4 linked regions of the Homo sapiens genome follow. The protein of the gene in region 1 purifies or fractionates together with the protein of each later gene. This does not show direct contact. Each region holds a gene or a part of one and is shown on either strand. Other genes may lie near its edges.

What was found.
Region 2: the proteins of A1BG (region 1) and KCMF1 purify together in Homo sapiens (affinity purification with mass spectrometry; 2 studies listed by BioGRID and IntAct, with this or other methods). This does not show direct contact.
Region 3: the proteins of A1BG (region 1) and WDR62 purify together in Homo sapiens (affinity purification with mass spectrometry; 2 studies listed by BioGRID and IntAct, with this or other methods). This does not show direct contact.
Region 4: the proteins of A1BG (region 1) and RNF123 purify together in Homo sapiens (affinity purification with mass spectrometry; 2 studies listed by BioGRID and IntAct, with this or other methods). This does not show direct contact.

The regions. Positions count from the first base shown.
Region 1 is NC_000019.10:58,344,239-58,348,609, reverse strand, and holds the end of A1BG (alpha-1B-glycoprotein precursor), read left to right. Parts: intron 1-969; coding exon 970-1,257; intron 1,258-1,580; coding exon 1,581-1,588; 3' UTR 1,589-3,427; downstream 3,428-4,371.
Region 2 is NC_000002.12:85,043,357-85,048,322, reverse strand, and holds part of KCMF1 (E3 ubiquitin-protein ligase KCMF1), read right to left. Parts: intron 4,760-4,966; coding exon 4,658-4,759; intron 2,220-4,657; coding exon 2,045-2,219; intron 1-2,044. UniProt on the Homo sapiens protein: E3 ubiquitin-protein ligase which accepts ubiquitin from an E2 ubiquitin-conjugating enzyme and then transfers it to targeted substrates, promoting their degradation by the proteasome.
Region 3 is NC_000019.10:36,060,593-36,065,558, forward strand, and holds part of WDR62 (WD repeat-containing protein 62), read left to right. Parts: intron 1-4,966. UniProt on the Homo sapiens protein: Required for cerebral cortical development. Plays a role in neuronal proliferation and migration.
Region 4 is NC_000003.12:49,695,253-49,700,218, forward strand, and holds part of RNF123 (E3 ubiquitin-protein ligase RNF123), read left to right. Parts: intron 1-1,890; coding exon 1,891-1,970; intron 1,971-2,110; coding exon 2,111-2,205; intron 2,206-2,632; coding exon 2,633-2,687; intron 2,688-2,799; coding exon 2,800-2,885; intron 2,886-3,187; coding exon 3,188-3,274; intron 3,275-3,502; coding exon 3,503-3,570; intron 3,571-3,727; coding exon 3,728-3,853; intron 3,854-4,215; coding exon 4,216-4,330; intron 4,331-4,415; coding exon 4,416-4,520; intron 4,521-4,966. UniProt on the Homo sapiens protein: Catalytic subunit of the KPC complex that acts as E3 ubiquitin-protein ligase. Promotes the ubiquitination and proteasome-mediated degradation of CDKN1B which is the cyclin-dependent kinase inhibitor at the G0-G1 transition of the cell cycle.

The DNA of each region.
Region 1 (4,371 bases):
TTTGGCTAGCATTTCAAAATGGATAGGGAATATAACTTTTAAAATGCGAAAGTATATTATACATATTGCACTTTTCTGCTAGGCTGGGCTAGTATCTTCCATGGCAAGATACTCAAACTATTGAATAAAATACACATTTAAATCAAGCACTTACATGTACTTCATTAATTTCCCTGAAATTATCAACAGCATTACCAAAATCTTCCAGGATTTTGTAACATTTGATTCCTTACAGTTTTGTTTTGTTTGTTTGTTTTTGAGACGGAGTGTCACTCTGTCACCCGGGCTGGAGTGCAGTGGCGCAATCTTGGCTCACTGAAACCTCTGCCTCCCAGGTTCAAGCAATTTTCCTGCCTCCACCTCCCGAGTAGCTGGGATTACAGGCGCACGCTGCCACGCCCGGCTAATTTTTTGTATTTTAGTAGAGACGGGGTTTCACCGTGTTACCCAGGCTGGTCTGGAACTCCTGAGCTCAGGCAATCCGCCTGCCTCGGCCTCTCAAAGTGCTGAGATTACAGGTGTGAGCCACTGCGCCCGGCACCTTAAATACACTTTTAAAGTTAAACTTATGGAGGGAAAACCCTCATCTATTGACATAGATTGTATGTCCTTTTTTGGTCCCTCCATGAAGGAGCACCGTTTTCTCCATCATTTCTTCTTCCCTTCACCCGTCAGAGTGACCGAGGCTGGGGACCCCAGAAGCCCCAGAGCAGGCCCGAATCTGGGACTTCCACGGTCCTGGGGGAGGGGTGCGGGGACACTCACGTGTGGCGCGGATGTCCGGGGTGTGAAGGCAGCGGGCGCAGCTCGGCGGCGCCGGAGGAGCCCTCTGCGCCCAGGAACAAGACAGGGAAGATGAAGCCGGGGCTGAGGCGCAGGCGCGGGCGCGGCCTGGGGTGTGGCCTGGGGTGTGGCCTGGGGCGTGGCCTGGGGCGTGGCCTGGCCCGACCACCCGCCCGCTCCGCCCAGGACCCCCTCCCAGGCCTCAGCTCCGGGCGACGTGGAGTGGGGCGGTCCTGGCGGGCCGAGATGCCGTCCTGCGCTGCGAGGGACCCATCCCCGACGTCACCTTCGAGCTGCTGCGCGAGGGCGAGACGAAGGCCGTGAAGACGGTCCGCACCCCCGGGGCCGCGGCGAACCTCGAGCTGATCTTCGTGGGGCCCCAGCACGCCGGCAACTACAGGTGCCGCTACCGCTCCTGGGTGCCCCACACCTTCGAATCGGAGCTCAGCGACCCTGTGGAGCTCCTGGTGGCAGGTGACGTTTCCCTGGGTCCCGGGTGCTGGTTCCGTCTGCTGATGTTTGCCTGGGCTGTGCCCACCTCCAGGAGGGCCTCTCCCGGCTCCTCCCTTGGGCACCCCTGGTTAGCGCTGGGTCTCCCCAGGGCTCGTGGGGGAATTGCGGGCGAGGAACCGCCCAGCAAAGGCCCTGCAGCTGGAGGCGCAGATGGGGGTCTCGGCTGGCAGCCGACCACGCGCTTCCTTCCGGGGGGGCGTCAGGGAGGTCGGCCTTGATTTCCGCGAGGAGGAGGGCATAGGATTTCCCCTCCTCCACCATTTCTCTTTTCTCCCGTTGTCTAGAAAGCTGATGCAGCCGCGGGCCCAGGGTGCTGTTGGTGTCCTCAGAAGTGCCGGGGATTCTGGACTGGCTCCCTCCCCTCCTGTTGCAGCACAAGGCCGGGGTCTCTGGGGGGCTGGAGAAGCCTCCCTCATTCCTCCCAGGAATTAATAAATGTGAAGAGAGGCTCTGTTTAAAATGTCTTTGGACTCCCAGGGCTGAGTGGGCTGGGATCTCGTGTCCTCAAAGTGGATGGGTTCTGGGGTGGCTCCTGAGGTAGAGGAGTGGAGAACTGGCTCTTAAGAGCACAGTTTTCTTTTCTTTTTTCTTTTTTGAGACAGGGTCTCACACTGTCACCCAGGCTGGAGTGCAGTGTTGCAGTCCGGCTCACTGCAGTTTTGACCTCCCAGGCTCAAGCGATCCTCCTGCCTCAGCCTCCCAAGTAGCTGGGAGCCTGGGCATGCATCGCCACGTCTGGCTAATTATTATTTTTTGTAGACAGGGTCTCACTGTGTTGCCCAAGCTTGTCTTGAACTCCTGGCCTTAAGTGATCCTCCCACCTCAGCCTCCTGAGTAGCTGGGACTACAGGCATGAGCCACCATGCCTGGCCAACTCACATTTTTCTTTCTATTATTTATTTTTTGTAGAGATGAGTCTCACTATGTTGCCCAGGCTGGTCTTGAACTCTTGGGCTCAAGTGATCCTCCCGCCTCAGCCTCCCAAAGTGTTGGGATTACAGGTGTGAGCCACAGCACCTGGCCAACCAACACTTCTCAGGGCCTCTTTCATCTGTGCTCTTCCAGGATGCTGCCTCTTACTCCCTGGGCACCTCGGCCTGGTCCCAGCAGGTATGGGCAGTTGCTTGAGGCTCCAGACATACTCACCTCTACCTCGACCACATCAACCCCATCACCAAGAGGAGGTTCAGGGAAGCTGCATTTTGTGGTCTTGTCCTCCCAGTCCAGGGTGGTAGTGCTGGGCTGTTCCCAGCCTCCCACAGCAGAGCTGGACGCTGTGGAAATGGCTGGATTCCTCTGTGTTCTTTCCCATTATCCCTCAGCTCTGAGTCCTCTTGTGCCATCTGACATCTGATGCCTTCCCAACCACTGCCGAGTTTCTGCCTGGAGCAGGGCCTCAAGGCCCTGGCACACAGAAGATGCGTATCAGTATTATCAACCAATAGTTGATGAATTGTGTTTTTCAACGAATTTGCTAGTGATCTGGTTTACTGCCTTAGTAATATCTAGTTCCTAATATGCCTATGCCTTTTAATGTCTGCACAGTCTATGATGATGTCACTTCTCTCAAGCCTGATGTGTCCTCTCTCTCTTTCTTGCTAGTGGTTTATCAATTTTTAAAACCTTTTCTTGTTTATTTGTTTTTGAGACAGAATTTTGCTCTTGTTGCCCAGGCTGGAGTGCAATGGCGTGATCTTGGCTCACAGCAACCTCTACCTCCTGGGTTCAAGTGATTCTCGTGCCTCAGCCTCCTGAGTAGCTGGGCTGACAGGCACCCACCACCACACCCAGCTAATTTTTATGTTTTTAGTAGAGATGGGGTTTCACCTTGTTGGGTGGCCAGGCTGGTCTCCAACTCCTGAGCTCAAGTGATCCACCCGCCTCAGCCTCCCAAAGTGCTGGGATTACAGGGGTGAGCCACCACGCCCAGCCCCAGCTTAGTTTTTTAAAAAGTTTATTTTAGCCATTCTAATAGGTATGTAGACATATCTAATAGTGGTTTTCCTTGCGTTTCCTTAATGTCTGATGATGTTAAGCATTTTTTCCCCAAGTGCTTAGTTGCCATCTATATAGCATCTTTGATGAAATGTCTGTTTATATATTTTGCACACTTTAAAATATTGGGTTGTTTTCTTTTTTCTTCTCTTTTCTTTTTTCTTCTCTTTTCTTTCTTTTTGAGAGAGTCATGCTCTGTTGCCCAGGCTGGGGTGCAGTGGCATGATTTCAGCTCACTGCAACTTCCGCCGCCCAGGTTCAAGCGATTCAACTCCCTCAGCCTCCTGTGTAGCTGGGATTACAGGCATGTGCCACCACACTGGCTGATTTTTGTATATTTAGTGGAGAGGGGGTTTCACCATGTTGGCCACACTGGTCTTCAACTCCTGACCTCAAGTGATCCACCTGCCTCAGCCTTCCAAAGTGTTGGGACTACAGGCATGAGCCACCGTGCCTGGCCTGTTTGTTTTCTTACTATTGAGTTTTGTTTGTTTGCTTTTGCTTTTTTTTTTTTTTTCCCGAATCTCACTCTGTTGCCCAGGCTGGAGTGCAGTGGTGTGATCTCGGCTCACTGCAACCTCCGCCTGCCAGGTTCAAGCAATTCTCCTGCCTCAGCCTCCGGAGTAGCTGGTACTACAGGCACCCACCAGCATGCCCGGCTAGTTTTTTGTATTTTTAGTAGAGATGGGGTTTCACCATGCTGTCCAGGCTGGTCTCAAACTCCTGACCTTGTGATCCCAACCGCCTCAGCCTCCCAAAGTACTGGCGTGAGCCACCGCACCCGGTCATTTTTTGTATCTTTAGTAGAGACAGTATTTCGCCATGTTGGTCTCAAACTCCTGAGCTCAAGTGGTCTGTCCACCTCAGCCTCCCAAAGTGCTAGGATTACACTGCACCTGGCCTCCAGCCACATTTTTTTTCTTTTTTTTTTTTTTTTTTTGAGACAGAGTCTTGCTCTGTCGCCCAGGCTGGAGTGCAGTGGCGTGATCTCGGCTCACTGCAAGCTCTGCCTCCCAGGTTCATGCCATTCTCCTGCCTCAGTCTCCCAAGTAGCTGGGATTACAGGAGCCCACCACCACG
Region 2 (4,966 bases), on another chromosome or scaffold:
TAGTGCCTGCCACCAAAATAGCAGGTAAATATTCCCTTTGGATGAAGAAATATTTTTTAAATCCCCCAAACTCAGTTTATTAGGCTTGTTTTTGTTGTTGCACACACAAATGTCCAAAGCACATTTGGAATTAAAATTTTATATGGTATATCTAACTTTTAAATAACATGATAGGTATAAAATTGTTCTTAGGTTGTTTTTCTTTTTTAAATTTTTATTTTAGGTTTGGGGGTACATGTGAAGGTCCGTTACACAGTTAAACACCTGCCACGAGGGTTTGTCATACATATTATTACATCACCCAGGACCCAATTAAGCCCAGTACCCAACAGTTATCTTTCTGCTCCTCTCTCTCTTGCTACCCTCCCCCAGTGTCTGCTGTCTCCTCCTTTGTGTTCCTAAGTTGTCATTTAGCTCTGATGTTCTCAGTTTCTATTACAGATTTACACTTATCAATGTTTCAGGTGTTCTGCAGGGTGCTCATGGCTTCCAGGTAGGTGCACACTTCACCACATGGACACATTTCAGAATTGTTGCTTTAAATGTGTGCACACTTCCCACTGTCTTACCACTTGTCTGCTTGGTGTGTCTTGCAGATTATCAGGCTACAGTGATTTCTTGTATTTTATTTTGACCCTGTGTTCTGCTACCAACTTCCTAGGTTTGTCATGTACTAGACTCAGTGACATGGCCAGGTTCAAAAACTGTGTTTTTTTTTTTTTTTTTAAGATTTTTCCCAAGCTATTAAACATGTACCTTTCAGTATGTTCTACAACAATATAGTTCTCAAATCAAGGTCAGGACATTAAGTCCTACTTTCCTTTCTTCCATGAGAAGAGCTTAATTCTTTAGTCTTTTCAATTAGCTATAGATAACAGTTCTGAAATGTGTCCATGTGGTGGAATGTGTACCTGGAAGCCATGAGGCGCCTTGCACAACATCTGAGATAGGCATAAATCTGTGACAGAATTTTACACATAACATGTTCTTAAAAATGTTAGCTATACCTTATAAAACCTTAATTTCAAATGTGCTTTGGACATTTTTTTATGTGTACTTATGGAGATTTAACCATGACATTTTGGAGGTATTCAAGTTGAAATCTTTTATGATTTCCTTGGGCTTCAATAGAGGCCACAAATACAACATAAAACCATTTCTTATCATCTTTTGTCTCTAAGAACAGTAGTCTCCCTTTACCTGCAGGAGATACGTTCCAAAACCCCCAGTGAATGGCTGAAATGGGCATTTGGATAATACAGAACCCTATACATACTATGTTTTTTCCTATACATACTTATCTGTTGTGCTAAAGTTTAATTTATAAATTAGGCACCTAATTTATAAATTAGGAACATGAGATTCCCAACAAAATAGAGTAAATCTAAAAATATACTATGAAAGTTATGTGATGTGGTCTCTCTCTAAGTATCTTATTGTCCTGTACTCACCTATTTTTTGACTGTAGTTGGTTGTGGGTAACTGAAACCCAGGAAAGCAAAACCACATGACGGGGGGACTACTGGACTTAAGCAATGCCAGAAGAGTATGAATTACTTTATGTTAAGTGTCTGCTTTTAACACATTTTACACTTTTAATGTATTTGGGAATTTTGTGAAGGAACATGGCTTATGATCAGAGAGGTGAGACTTAAGAACACAAATCTCACAAAAAGTTTTTTTTTTTTTTTTTGAGACAGGGTCTCACTCCATCACCCAGGCTGGACTGCAGTGGTGCGATCTCGGCTCCCTGGAACCTCCACCTTTCAGGCTCAAGCGATTCTCATGCCTCAGCATCCAGAGTAGCTGCGATTACAGGCACCCACCACCAAATCTGGCTAATTTTTTTATTTTTAGTAGAGATGGAGTTTTGCCATGTTGGCCAGGCTGGTCTTGAATTCCTGGCCTCAAGTGATCCACCCGCTCCAGCCTCCCAGAGTGCTGGGATTAAAGGTGTGAGCCACCGCACCTGGCATCACAAAAAGTTTTAAAAGGAGCTCCTCCTTCCCCTGCCATTTCCCTTATTAATGTGAAACTAACTTACCAGCTATAGGATCCATGGCTTCCCTATTGCTTGGAGAATATGAACTCTGAGAAGAAGAAAGTCCACCAGTAGAACTGCTAGTAAAGTGCATGTTTGATCTACGAGCACGAGGACCTCCTAATCCCCGGCCAGGGTGAAACATTCTACGTACATGTCGAACACCACTCGATTCATCATAACCCAAAAGTTAAGAAAAAAACGAAAGTATTTCACAGAAAGAAAAAAAATCACCTGAGTCCTTGCTAGACAGATGTAAAGATTTCCTGAATTGTAAGCATTTAAAAACAGCACATTTAACTTAAAGTGCAAATGTCCCAACTCTATCTATGAGGGCTATTAACCCTAAAAAGACACTCAAATGTAAGGCAACATGTGAGTGTGTGTGTGTGTATTGGGTGTGTGAGGTAAAAAAGTTTCTCTATATAGCTCATGAAATCTCAAATACCACCTATAATGAAAAAGGAACAATACTGAATGTATATTCAGCACATCAAAGGTTCCTTTTGGATTATTAGTTTTACTCTGTCTTCAAGCTTCTTTCCAATGCCGCTGCTAAGCAGAAAACAGATTTGCATTTCTTGTATAAGACACACAGATAGATTAACATGACATTTATCACGAAGAAAAATTCCCAGCAGCCTCAACCGTCTTACACAGCTGAGTGTAAGTCAAACTGAAAAAGGTCCTGAGTTGCAAATAGCTGTCAAAACTCATGAAGACAACCTTACGTTTCCACAAAGGCAAATGAGAGGTGGGGGAGGCCAGATCATATAGAAGAGATTTTTCCTTTAAAGTACCAAACAGACCAGCTTTATAATGCAGATTAATTTTTTGGCTGGCTTCTCAGTTTTTCAGCTGATGGTTCTGGAGTTATTTAAGGACCGGATGGGTAGCTCCAAGAGGCCTTCAGGTGTCACGGTACATGCCCTGTTCCATCATATTCATGAGGATGGTTTGGGTTCTAGAGAAAGTGATATGATCATATTTATATATTTGATAATTTTATATTATGATTATATATACATATATATATGTATCTTGAGACAGGGTCTCACTTTGTTGCCAGGCTGGAGTGCAGTGGTGCAATCATAGCTTACTGCAGCCTTGAGCTCATGGGCTCAAGTGATCCTCCTACCTCAGCCTCTTGAGTAGCTGGGACCACAGGTGTGTGCCACCAGCTGAGCTCATTATTTTGGTAGAGATGGGGTCTTCCTATGTTGTCCAGGTTGGTTTCAAACTTCTAGGCTCAAGTGATCCTCCCACCTTGGCCTTTCAAAGTGCTGGGAGTATAGGCATGAGCCACTGTACCCAGCTGGTGACAGTTTTAGACGAACAATTCATAACCTGAAATCAGAAGCATTGAGTCCACAAAATTAATCGCTCTGGTAGGCCAGTAATCTCAGGGAACACTGCCAGAAACTGTTGAGAGACAAGGAAGGGAATGCAGAAATAAAAGCAAGAGGCTGGGCGTGGTGGCTCACGCCTGAATCCCAGCACTTTGGGAAGCTGAGGTGGGCAGATCACCTGAGGTCAGGAGTTCGAGACCAGCCTGGCCAACATGGTGAAACCCCATCTCTACTAAAAAAATACAAAAATTGGCCAGGCGCAGTGGTTCATGCCTGTAATCCCAGCACTTTGGGAGGCTGAGGCAGGCAGTCAGGAGTTCAAGACCAGCATGGCCAAGAGACCAGCCTGGCCAATATGGTGAAACCCCATCTCTACTAAAAATACAAAAATTAGCTGGGTGTGGTGGCGGGCACCTGTAATCTTAGCTACTTGGGAGGCTGAGGCAGGAGAATTACTTGAATCCAGGAGGTGGAGGTTGCAATAAGCTGAAGATAGCACCATTGTACTCCAGCCTGGCTGACAGAGCAAGACTCCGACTTTTAAAAAAAAAAGAAAAGAAAAGAAAAGCAGGAAAGGAAATTTAAAGCTAGAGCTGACCTTATGCTATCCTACTCAGGAACTCGGCAGGAAATGGCTCTCTCTGGAGAAGGGGACCCCAAAAAGGAAAGGAACACCAAGATGCACACCTGTCCCCACCATCTCACCACACCACACCCACAACAGGGTAAGGCAGCAGAGGAACAGAGAGGGAAAGCAAATAATGCCTCTTCATATTTAACTAATTAAATTTTAATTTGGATTAACATTTTCCTCTTTTGTATGAAAACGCCATCCTGGAAGACACAATTTGGTCAAACTGCCTTAAAAAAAATCTAATTGTAATGAACTAAAGATGAAGGACAAGTCAACTTTCACTTAATGAAAATGGTTCATACAATGGTGATAGTATATAAAAAGAGAAATAAATTGCATCTCAGCACTGAGTCACTTTTAGGAAAAGTTCAAATAAGTAAAAATAATTTGGACATTACTTTTCCTCTTTTGGGGGATATGATCCTTAAAAAAAATCAAAATGACAAGCTGGATGCAGTGGCACATGTGTGCCTATAGTCCCAGCTACTCAAGAGGCTGAAGCAGGAGGATCACTTGAGCTCAGGAGTTTGAGACCAGCCAGGTCGACACAGCGAGATCTTGTCTCCAAAACAAAAAATCAAAATGACAAACATTACAAACAACTCTTTTCCTTGTCATCTCTTAAAAGGATATTAAATCTCTAGGGGCTCTGTGTTCAAGTGTAAGATGAGCTGCAAAGTCATCCGTGACATGATTAGGATCGCCTCCAGGTAACGCTGCACATATTGGACAAATCTGAAATGGAAGTAAAGAAAGCAGCTTAATAAATGAACGTCAATAAGACATCTTTCTGGACGAGTATTCTGCTGTAAGTTTTACTATTATCAAGTTTTAACCAACAGAAAACACAGCAGATCCTAAATCAGTGAAAAGCAGTAGAAACCTAAGCAAGAACTGTTCACACAAGGTCCCTCAGGGTCAAACACAACAGTTTCAGACACA
Region 3 (4,966 bases), about 22 Mb from region 1:
TGTAGAGGGTCTGCATAGCATGCTGAGTGCAGAGAGCAGCCACAGGAGGGCACCACAGGCCAGGAATGTGCTTTTCACCCCCAGCCCTCCAGCAGCTCTATTCCCTGCTTTGCTTTTCTCCACAAAATTTGCTCCCATCTCTGATATGCTGTCCAGTTTCCTCATTGATGGTATTCACTGTGGGTCTCCCTCAGTGTGAGCACTCTTGAGAGCAGGGACTTTCTCTGAGTTCATTTCTGTGTCCCTAGCACCAAAGAGCAGTATCTGGCATATTGATGGCTATTTTCTAAGAGAAAGACTTAACATGATTTGGGTTTTAGAAAGATCCCTTCAGCTATAAGTTTACTGGGGAAGGACCCGCTCCTCTGCCTTGGGGCTAACTGATCACTGCTACCCTGGGGATGTGGTCCCAATAGGGCTGTGACCTTTGGAAGGCACACCATGTCCCTCCTTGGCATAGCTCAGGCTCAGCTCCTTTGGCCCAGTTCTCCAGGTGGATGGATAAGGAGTGGGTTTTCTCCTGCCCTTATGGTCCCTAAGGTACGGTCCTTAAGCTACGGCAGGTTCTTGTTATCTGACAGAAGTGCATTCCCTCTTGAAAGTGGCTTTTTGGACCTTTTGCTCCTAACTGTGGGTTCTGTTACTGGTGATAAGGGCAGAGCTGGGTTCCATTCCTGGCTCAAGCGTCTATTCACTGTGGAATCTCAGGTGAGACACTTCTTTCAGAGCCTTGGTCTCCTCTGAAAATAAAATAGCTGCCTCCAACTGGGAGAGCATTCATAAGGCAGCAGCTACAAACCAGAGTCACACACACTTGCCCAATATAGTATGTTTTAAAGGTTGGATAAGTGGACAACATTTCAAGTTTTTTAACACAAAAATCCAAATGTCCCTTTTGTTTGGAGAAGTGAGAAATTCTCTGGCCTCTGGGGCCCAAATTCCCCTGTGGCAGTGAGGGGCTGAGCTTAGTGAAATTTGTCAGGCCCGTTGTGGCCAGTTCCTCACACCTGTGTTGCCTCCCTAATCCCTGTAGGCAGTGGAGTGGGTGGCCTGGATCTATAGTAGATGGTATGCAGGTGTCCGCCCTTGGCCACCAGTGGGTGTGCATTAGGAGGTGGTGTGGCCAGTGTGGGGATTTTCACTCCAACTGCATATCAGAATCACCTGGTCCCTGTGCCTCACCGCCCCCCCACCGCCACGCAAGAGAAAGCCAAATCAGTTGATCTGGGATGAAACTTGGGCATTGGCAATTTTGAGACTTTTTATATTGAAATAATTTCAGACTTAGAATAGTACAAAGAGCTCCTATATACCTATGTACCTTTCACATATTTCACAAATGTTAGCTTTTTTTTCTTTTTTTTTTTTGGACACAGAGTCTTGCTCTGTCACCCAGGCTGCTGGAGTGCAGTGGCACAGTCTCAGCTCACTGCAACTTCCACCTCCCGGGTTCAGGTGATTCTCATGCCTCAGCCCCCCAGGTGGCTGGGACCACAGGCATGTGCCACCATGCCCAGCTAGTTTTTTGTGTTTTAGTGGAGACGGGGTTCATCATGTTGCCCAAGGTGGTCTTGAACTCCTGAGCTTAGACAGTCTGCCTGCCTCAGCCTCCCAAAGTGCTAGGATTACAGGTGCGAGCCACTGCACTTGGCCAAATGTTAGCATTTTACCACATTTGCTTTATCATTTTTTGTCTATATACATATTAATTTGTTCTGAACTATTTGAGAATCAGTTGTAGACATGATGCCCCTATATCTCTAAATACTTCACGCCAGGCATGGTGATTCACGCCTGTAATCTCAGCACTGTGGGAGGCCTTGGAGGCAGGAAGATCATTTGAGGTCAGGAGTTTGAGACCAGCCTGGGGAACATGGCAAAACCCTGTCTCTACTAAAAATACAAAAATTAGCCAGGCCTGGTGGCAGGCGCCTGTAATCCCAGCTACTCGGGAGGCTGAGGCAGGAGAATCGCTTGAACCCGGGAGGCAGAGGTTGCAGTGAGCCAAGATCATGCCACTGCACTCCAGCCTGGGTGACAGAGCAAGAGTCCGTCTCAAAAAAAAAAAAAAAAAAAAAAAAAACTTAATCAAATAAATACTTCAGTGTGTATTTCCTACAAAAAAAAATGACAATCTTTTTAAACTGTAATACATCCAGCAAAATCAGGAAATGAAAATTGATATATCACTCTCATCCACTCCCCAGAGGGCACCATTCAGGAGTCAGCCTTTGTCCCATGAATGTCCTTTATGGCCAAAGGATTCTGTCTAGAATCACACATTGCATTGAGTTGTCCCCTCAGTCTCTTTCAGGCTGACGTGGCTCCTCTGTCTTTTCTTGACTTTCAGGATCTTGACATTTTTTTTTTTCTTTTTGAGATGGAGTCTCTGTCGTCAGGCTGGAGTGCAGTGGTGGGATCCTGGCTCACTGCAACCTGACTCCCCAGTTCAAGTGATTCTCCTGCCTCAGCCTCCCGAGTAGCTAGGATTACAGGCATATGCCACCATGTCCGGCTAATTTTTGTATTTTTAGTAGAGCTGGGGTTTCCCCATGTTGGCCAGGATGGTCTCGATCTCCTGACCTTGTGATCCGCCCGCCTTGGCCTCCCAAAGTGCTGGGATTACAGGCGTGAGCCACAGCACCTGGCCACTTTTTTTTGTTTTTTTGTTTTTTGAGACGAAGTCTCACACTGTCGCCCGGGCTGGAGTGCAGTGGGGCGATCTTGGCTCGCTGCAGCCTCCACCTCCTGGGTTCAAGCGATTCTCTGCCTCAGCCTCCTGAGTAGCTGGGACTACAGGCATGCGCCACCGTGCCTGGCTAATTTTTGTATTTTTTTTTAGTAGAGACGGGGTTTCACTATGTTGGTCAGGCTGGTCACGAACTCCTGACCTCGTGATCCACCCGCCTCGGCCTCCCAAAGTGCTGGGATTACAGGCTTGAGCCACTGCACCCGGCCAATCTTGACACTGAGGATTGTAGACGAGGTATTTTGTAGAGTGTCCCAGCATTTGGGTTTGTCCAATGCCTCCTCACGGGCAGACTCAGGTTCTGCATCTTTGGCAGGAACAGACCAGAAGGGGTGCTGTGTTCTTCCTGGTGCCTCCTCTCAGGAGGTCTCCTATGACTGGTGGTGTTCACTGGGAGCACTTGGCCAAGGTGTTGCCTGCCAGATTCCTCCACTTCAAAGCCTCTCTTTTCACCTTTGTGATTAGCAGGTATCCTGGGGACATCTTTCCTGAGACAGTGCAAATATTATCTTGTTCCTCACCAAACTTTCACTCAACTAATCTTAGGCTTTGACACTTTTCAGATGCTCCCCAGGGAAATCTAATGTACAGCCAGGACTGAGAACTACTGGCTTAGAGGTCAGGGCTCTGCCCTGTCTGGTTAGGTAACTGCAGGCAGGGGACTTCCTTGTGTTGCAGTCACCTCATCTGCCAAGTTGGTTCATGAGAGCCCTGACTCCATGAAGCATGCTTGAGGAATCAGTGCACTGATGGCCAGACAGCATTTGCCAGAGGGCCAGGCACAAGGTCAGGGCATGCGACAGGTTAGAGGTGGCTACGGGCAACAGAAACCCCTCCACAGCATGGCTTAAAACCCAAGAGCATGCTCTTCCTGCATGTCATAAGTCCAGAGGTGGGCAGCCCAGGGGCTGTGTCTCTGAACGCCACATTTTTTTTTTCTGTCTCTCTTTTTGAGACAGAGTCTCACTCTGTTGCCCAGGCTGGAGTGCAGTGGCGCGATCTTGGCTCACTGCAAGCTCCGCCTCCTGGGTTCACACCATTCTCCTGCCTCAGCCTCCCAAGTAGCTGGGACTACAGGCGCCCACCACCACGCCTGGCTAATTTTGTTTTTGTATTTTTAGTATAGACAGGGTTTCACCGTGTTAGCCAGGGTGGTCTCGATCTCCTGACCTTGTGATCTGCCCACCTCAGCCTCCCAAAGTGCTGGGATTACAGGCGTGAGCCACCGCGCCCAGCCCCACTTCTTTTTTTCTCTAGACGGAGTCTTGGTCTGTTGCCCAGGCTGGAGTGCAGCAGCACGATCTTGGCTTGCTGCAACCTCTGCCTCCCGGGTTCAAGCAATTCTCCTGCCTCAGCCTCCCGAGTAGCCGGGATTACAGGCTCCTGCCACCACACCTGGCTATTTTTTGTATTTTTAGTAGAGGTGGGGTTTTGTCGTGTTGGCCAGGCTGTTCGCGAATTCCTGACCTCAAGTGAACCACCCACCCCTCTGCCTCCCAAAGTGCTGGGATTACAGGCGTGAGGCACCGCACCCGGCCCCCATTCCTTCTCTCCTGTTCCACCCCATTTATTGTGAGGCTTCTGGTCTTGAAGTCACTTCATGGCCCAAGATGGAGTTCTGGCTGTCGTGTGCGTATTTCAGGAGGGGAACTGGTAGGAAGCAGGGCAAAGGGTTCCCTTTGACGAGTATTTCAGGAAGTCCCACACAGCATGTCAGTTTACTTCTCCTTGGCCAGACTAAGTCATGTAGCTGTACCTGCATAGTTGCAAGCATAAAACTGGGGTTATGTCAGTAAGGAAAGAGAGGCGAGTGGATATCCAGGAGGCAGCTTGCCCTGTTTGTTGCAGTAAGGAGCCACGGGAAGCCTGGGAAGCAGGTTGACTTGATGATGAATATTCCATGAAGTTGCCAAAGTCTCACTTAGCGACATTTACTTAGTTATCTACACACCAATTTACCATCTCACGTAGGGAGACAATTATTAGATTGTTAAGGAACAAAGGTAAAAATAAGATTAAAAGAGAGAAGGGAGTAGAAGGAAACCATACAATCTGGGAACAGTGAATCTTGCTGCCAGAAACCTACGAGCTAGCCTGTTCATTCAGTGCTTGTGCAGGCTAGCTAGGAGTATCAGAAACATTTTGGCTCTTTATGGATTTTCCAGAACACCTTGAGTATTTAGCAGTGGAGCACAGGCTGCAGGCTACCTTGATGTG
Region 4 (4,966 bases), on another chromosome or scaffold:
CCACAGCACCCAGCTAATTTTTTTTTTTTAAGAGACAGGGTCTTACTGTGTCACCCAGGCTGGTCTCAAACCCCTGGGCTCAAGTGATTCTCCCACCTCAGCCTCCCAAAGTGCTGAGACTACAGGTGTGAGCCACCATGCTTGGCCTGTAACTGCTTTTGAGGAAGGCTCCTTTATCCTTGGGCCCACTGGGGTATTCAGAGATGGGGTTGGCTTTAGCCTTCTATGCTACTAGCTGAGCACCCCGACTGCATAGCCACCACCTGGCCTTGGCCTGGGACAGAGCAGCAGTGGGGAGGGGCCTTTGTGCATCTCTGCTCCTACAGCTCAGGGCTGGGAGTGGCTTACACTGGGGAATATGTGATCCCTGAGCCTGGGTAGTGGCTACTTTGTCAGGGTGCTTGTCCAACCTTTGTCCCCTTCCAGAGCTTTCTGTCTGTGTGGATGAGTGGGGTAAGAACTGGCATTAAAGGTGGAAGAGCAGGTGGTGGCACCCTGTGGGCAGCCAGGTGTGTAATGGGCCTCTGTTCTGCCTGAGTCCTGCTGGTTACCACCACCTCACTCCCTGCTATTCTTAGCAGCTGAGCTCAGGACAGCACTGACTGGCATTAGACAGTACCCTTTTCCCTCTAGGCCTGTGTGTTGAGAGGATGAGGGGGCCACCCAGACAGATTTTTCCCAACTCCTTTGGCTCGGGTAGGTGGGTCATGTGCTCCGCTGACCATTTATGGACTGGCGGGTACAGGACAGAGCCATCCAGCAGCTCAGAGGGCTGAGCCTTTCATACTTCCAGAACATGTCCCATTCAACACAGACTCCCCTGGCTGGGTGGTGGCGAGACTGGAATCTGCCCCAAAGGAACCACAGGCCTAGGGGCAAGGGTTGGACTAGGTGGCCTTGGTACTGACCACTTTGGGAACCAGCATTTCTCCCAGCCTTCTTCTTCCAGACATCATCAGCACAGCCACCTTTGAGAGCGGACAGGTTATGTGCTATGCAGACAGCACTTGTTATTCCCTGGGCTCTTCACAGCATCTCTAACATAAGTCACTATTCTGTTTTTACAGATGAAGGAATTAAGACTTAGAGAGGGCTACTTTTTTTTTTTTTTTTTGAGACAGAGTCTTGCTCTGTCACCCAGACTAGAGTGCAGTGGCACGATCATGGCTCACTGCAACCTCCGCCTCCCAGGTTCAAGCAATTCTCCTGCCTCCGCCTCCCAAGTAGCTGGTATTACAGGCACATGCCACCGCGCCCAGCATTTTTAGTAGAGTCGCAATTTCACCATGTTGGCCAGGCTGGTCTTGAACTACTGACCTCGTGATCTGCCCGCCTCAGCCTCCCAAAGTGCTGGGATTACAGGCATGAGCCACCGCACCTGGCCACATACTTTTTTTTTTTTTTTTTTTGAGACAGAGTCTTACTCTTGTTGCCCGGGCTGAAGTACAATGACACGATCTTGGCTTACTACAACCTCTGCCCCACCAAGGTTCAAGCTATTCTCCTGCCTCTGTCTCCCGAGTAGCTGGGATTATACGCATGCGCCACCACACTCAGCTAATTTTTGTATTTTTAGTAGGGATGGGGTTTCACCATGTGGCCAGGCTGGTCTCGAACTCCTGACCTCAGGTGATCTGCCCGCCTCGGCCTCCCAAAGTGCTGGGATTACAGGCATGGGCCACCACACCCGGCCTGGACTGGTTATACTTTTGAGTTTAGTGGAGAATTCGGCCTTCTGACCTCCTGCATGCCAGAGTCTAGGACTAGGCACAGCCCTTTTTCTGGAGTCTAGGCAGCCCCCCTGTGAGCTCAGGGGAAAGGATGGGATTTAGTGTCATCTGGCTGATTTCAAGGACTTGTGGACCCCTGGCAGCCTCTCACTCTCCCCAGGAAACCCCTGAACTTCCAGAACCTGCCAGAACATTTGGACCAGTTGCTACAGGTGGACAATGAGGAGGAGGAAAGCCAGGGTATGTGGCCACCTCTGGAGTGGGGTTGGGAGGTGCAGAGCTGGGACGTAGCGGGCCTGGAGACGTCTGGTGAGCTCAGGACACCCTATGCATCCTGTCAAATGCTCCACCCTGCCTGACCCCACCTCTCCTCTTTTCAGGACAGGTTGAAGGGCGGCTTGGCCCATCCACTGTGGTCCTGGACCACACAGGCGGCTTTGAGGGGCTTCTCCTGGTGGATGATGACCTGCTGGGGGTGAGTGAGGGTGAGGTGTGGAGACCCAGGTCCAGCCCCTTCTGACATAGCCCCAGGCTCCTCCTGATGTGGCCCTAGTCTCTCTACTCATCTGATGGGGCTGCAGCCAAAACTTGTCCTGACGTGGCCCCAGACCATTGTGTTCTCAGTCCTCAAACTCTCCCACTAAAGCCCTGAAACAGTCTTGATGTGGACTCAGCCCCCAGCCCTTCCCAGCACAGCCCTGAGTCCCTCTCTCATCCTGCCTTGGCCCAGGATCCTTCCTGATACAAGCCTACCCGCTCCCACCGTCCTCAGGCACAGTGCAGTGTTGGCCGCCACAGGCAAATACCACCAGGGCTGGCTCAGTTGGGGATGGGGTCTTTTTCCCTTGGGGAGATGCTCTGTGTGCCTGGGAGCTAGCCCACCACCCCTCTTCTTCACCCAGGTGATTGGACACAGCAACTTTGGCACCATCCGCTCTACCACATGCGTGTACAAAGGTGAGACCTTACCCTGCTGTGGCCTAGGTAGTGAGGAGAAAGTTTAAGGGCCCAGGCATGAGGCAAGAGGCAGTCTTTGTCCACCTCGTGGCCCTAACTCAGCTCTTTCCAGGGAAATGGCTCTACGAGGTCCTCATCTCCTCCCAGGGGCTCATGCAGATCGGCTGGTGCACCATCAGCTGCCGCTTCAACCAGGAGGTACACGTTGGGGAGGGGACCCCTCCCTGGGCCCAGGGAGAGCTTCTCCTGCCACAGGCCTCATCAGGTCTCCAGATCCCCTCAGAACTGCCTAGGACCCTAACTAACCTGGACTGCCCTCTGGAGAAGAAACGTGTCCCACCCAATCCCAGGCACCCCAGCTCAGAGAATACCTCTTACTCTTTCCCTCAGATCATCTGTTCCCTTCTGTAGAGCCATATGCATCCAAGGCTGGTGATTGGTGGGCTCTGGCCCAGACCCTGCCTGCCTCACCAGGGACCTCATAGGCATTTCCTCCCTAGGAGGGGGTTGGAGATACACACAACTCCTATGCCTATGATGGCAACCGCGTGCGCAAGTGGAATGTGACCACAACGAATTATGGCAAGGTGAGAGCCAAGCCCCTGTGGGTCATCCGCCCCATGACTGTTACTACAGCTTATTTGGAGCCACTGGGCAGCCATAAGGGACTACAGGGCACCAGGGAAGGGTCAGGGACCCAGGTCCTTTGTCCTTGTGGCTAGTCTCCCTTGGGTGGTTCTGGAAACGCAGCTGGGGTTCAGAGTCAGCAGGCTGCTGGGCTTCTGTGCATCTGGTGAGGCCTCCTCTCATGGCAGGCGTGGGCAGCGGGGGACATCGTGAGCTGCCTGATTGACCTGGATGATGGCACTCTGTCCTTCTGCCTGTGAGTTTCCTATCTCTATGCACAGGCCTGGCCCCTGGGGCCTCCCCAGACTGCCCCCAGTTTCCTGGGCCCTGTAAGGGGCCAGACTGAGTTTGATAGCCTGAGGGTGGGCAGCCACATGCTTAGCACTGGCTCACAGACCCACCCTTCTCCCCAGGAACGGTGTATCACTGGGCACTGCCTTTGAGAACCTGTCCAGGGGCCTGGGTATGGCCTACTTCCCAGCCATCAGCCTCTCTTTCAAGGAGTCCGTGGCCTTCAACTTTGGCAGCCGTCCTCTGCGATATCATTTTGTGAAGATGGCTGTGGGCTGCTCAGAAGCTCTTGGGGAGGCTGGGATGAGGGGCTCCCTACCCCAGGGGTGCCATGGGCTGGTGGCAGGCCCTGGCTGCTGCAGAGTTAGTGGGGGGCCATGTAGAGTGTCGAAGAAAACTTTCCTCGCAGCAGCCTGGTTGGTTGGGTGCCCTTGTCTCCACTGAACAGATGAGGAATGTGAAGCATCCTCCCTAGGGAGAATAAGTGGGCAAGTTGTGATGCAAACCAGCCCTGCCCTAGAGCCCAGGCCCCGGGGTGGGGGGTGGGCAGTGGAGAGGGAGTAGGCATGTCTGAGCCACAGATAAGGCGTTGCTGGCTTAACTCTGGCACCTACCCAGTGGCAGGCTACCGGCCCCTGCAGGACCCACCGAGTGCTGACCTGGTGCGGGCACAGAGGTTGCTGGGCTGCTTCCGGGCAGTGCTGAGTGTGGAGCTGGACCCTGTGGTGAGCTGGGGTCTGGGCCAGGCGGGGTGGGGGGCTTCCACAGCCTCCTGCCCCTCACACTTCTCCCTCCTCCCCCTCCACACAGGAGGGGCGGCTGTTGGACAAGGAGAGCTCCAAGTGGCGGTTGCGGGGCCAGCCCACCGTCCTCCTCACACTGGCCCACATCTTCCATCACTTTGCACCGCTTCTGGTGAGCGGCATTGGGAGGGGCATGGGAGGGGAGGAGACAGGCCATGCTAGACACGCCCGTGGTAGATGTGCCCTCACTGAGGGCTGCAGTGCTGAGGTCCCACAGCATCACCTGGCGAGGGCCCCATGTGACCAGGGCCCTCAGACCTCAGTCAGTCCCCTAGGGAAACAGGGACATTGCCAACCAAGGGCATCAGGGGATGTCCTGGAAAGAAGACTGAAGGATAATAACATCCCAGGCCAAGGAAACTGCGTGTGCCAAGCCTTAGAGGAGCCGTGGGGCAATGGCCTTCTTGTCCCTCAGTCAGACCCCGGAAGGGGTCATCTATGTTTGGTGTTGCTCGAGTGGCTCAAGGCTCTGTGCCTGAGGCTTGTGCCTTGGCCATGTGCCAGGGCAGGGGTGCCTTGACCAGAGTGGAAGGCCACCACCTCACCAGTGCCTGGCCT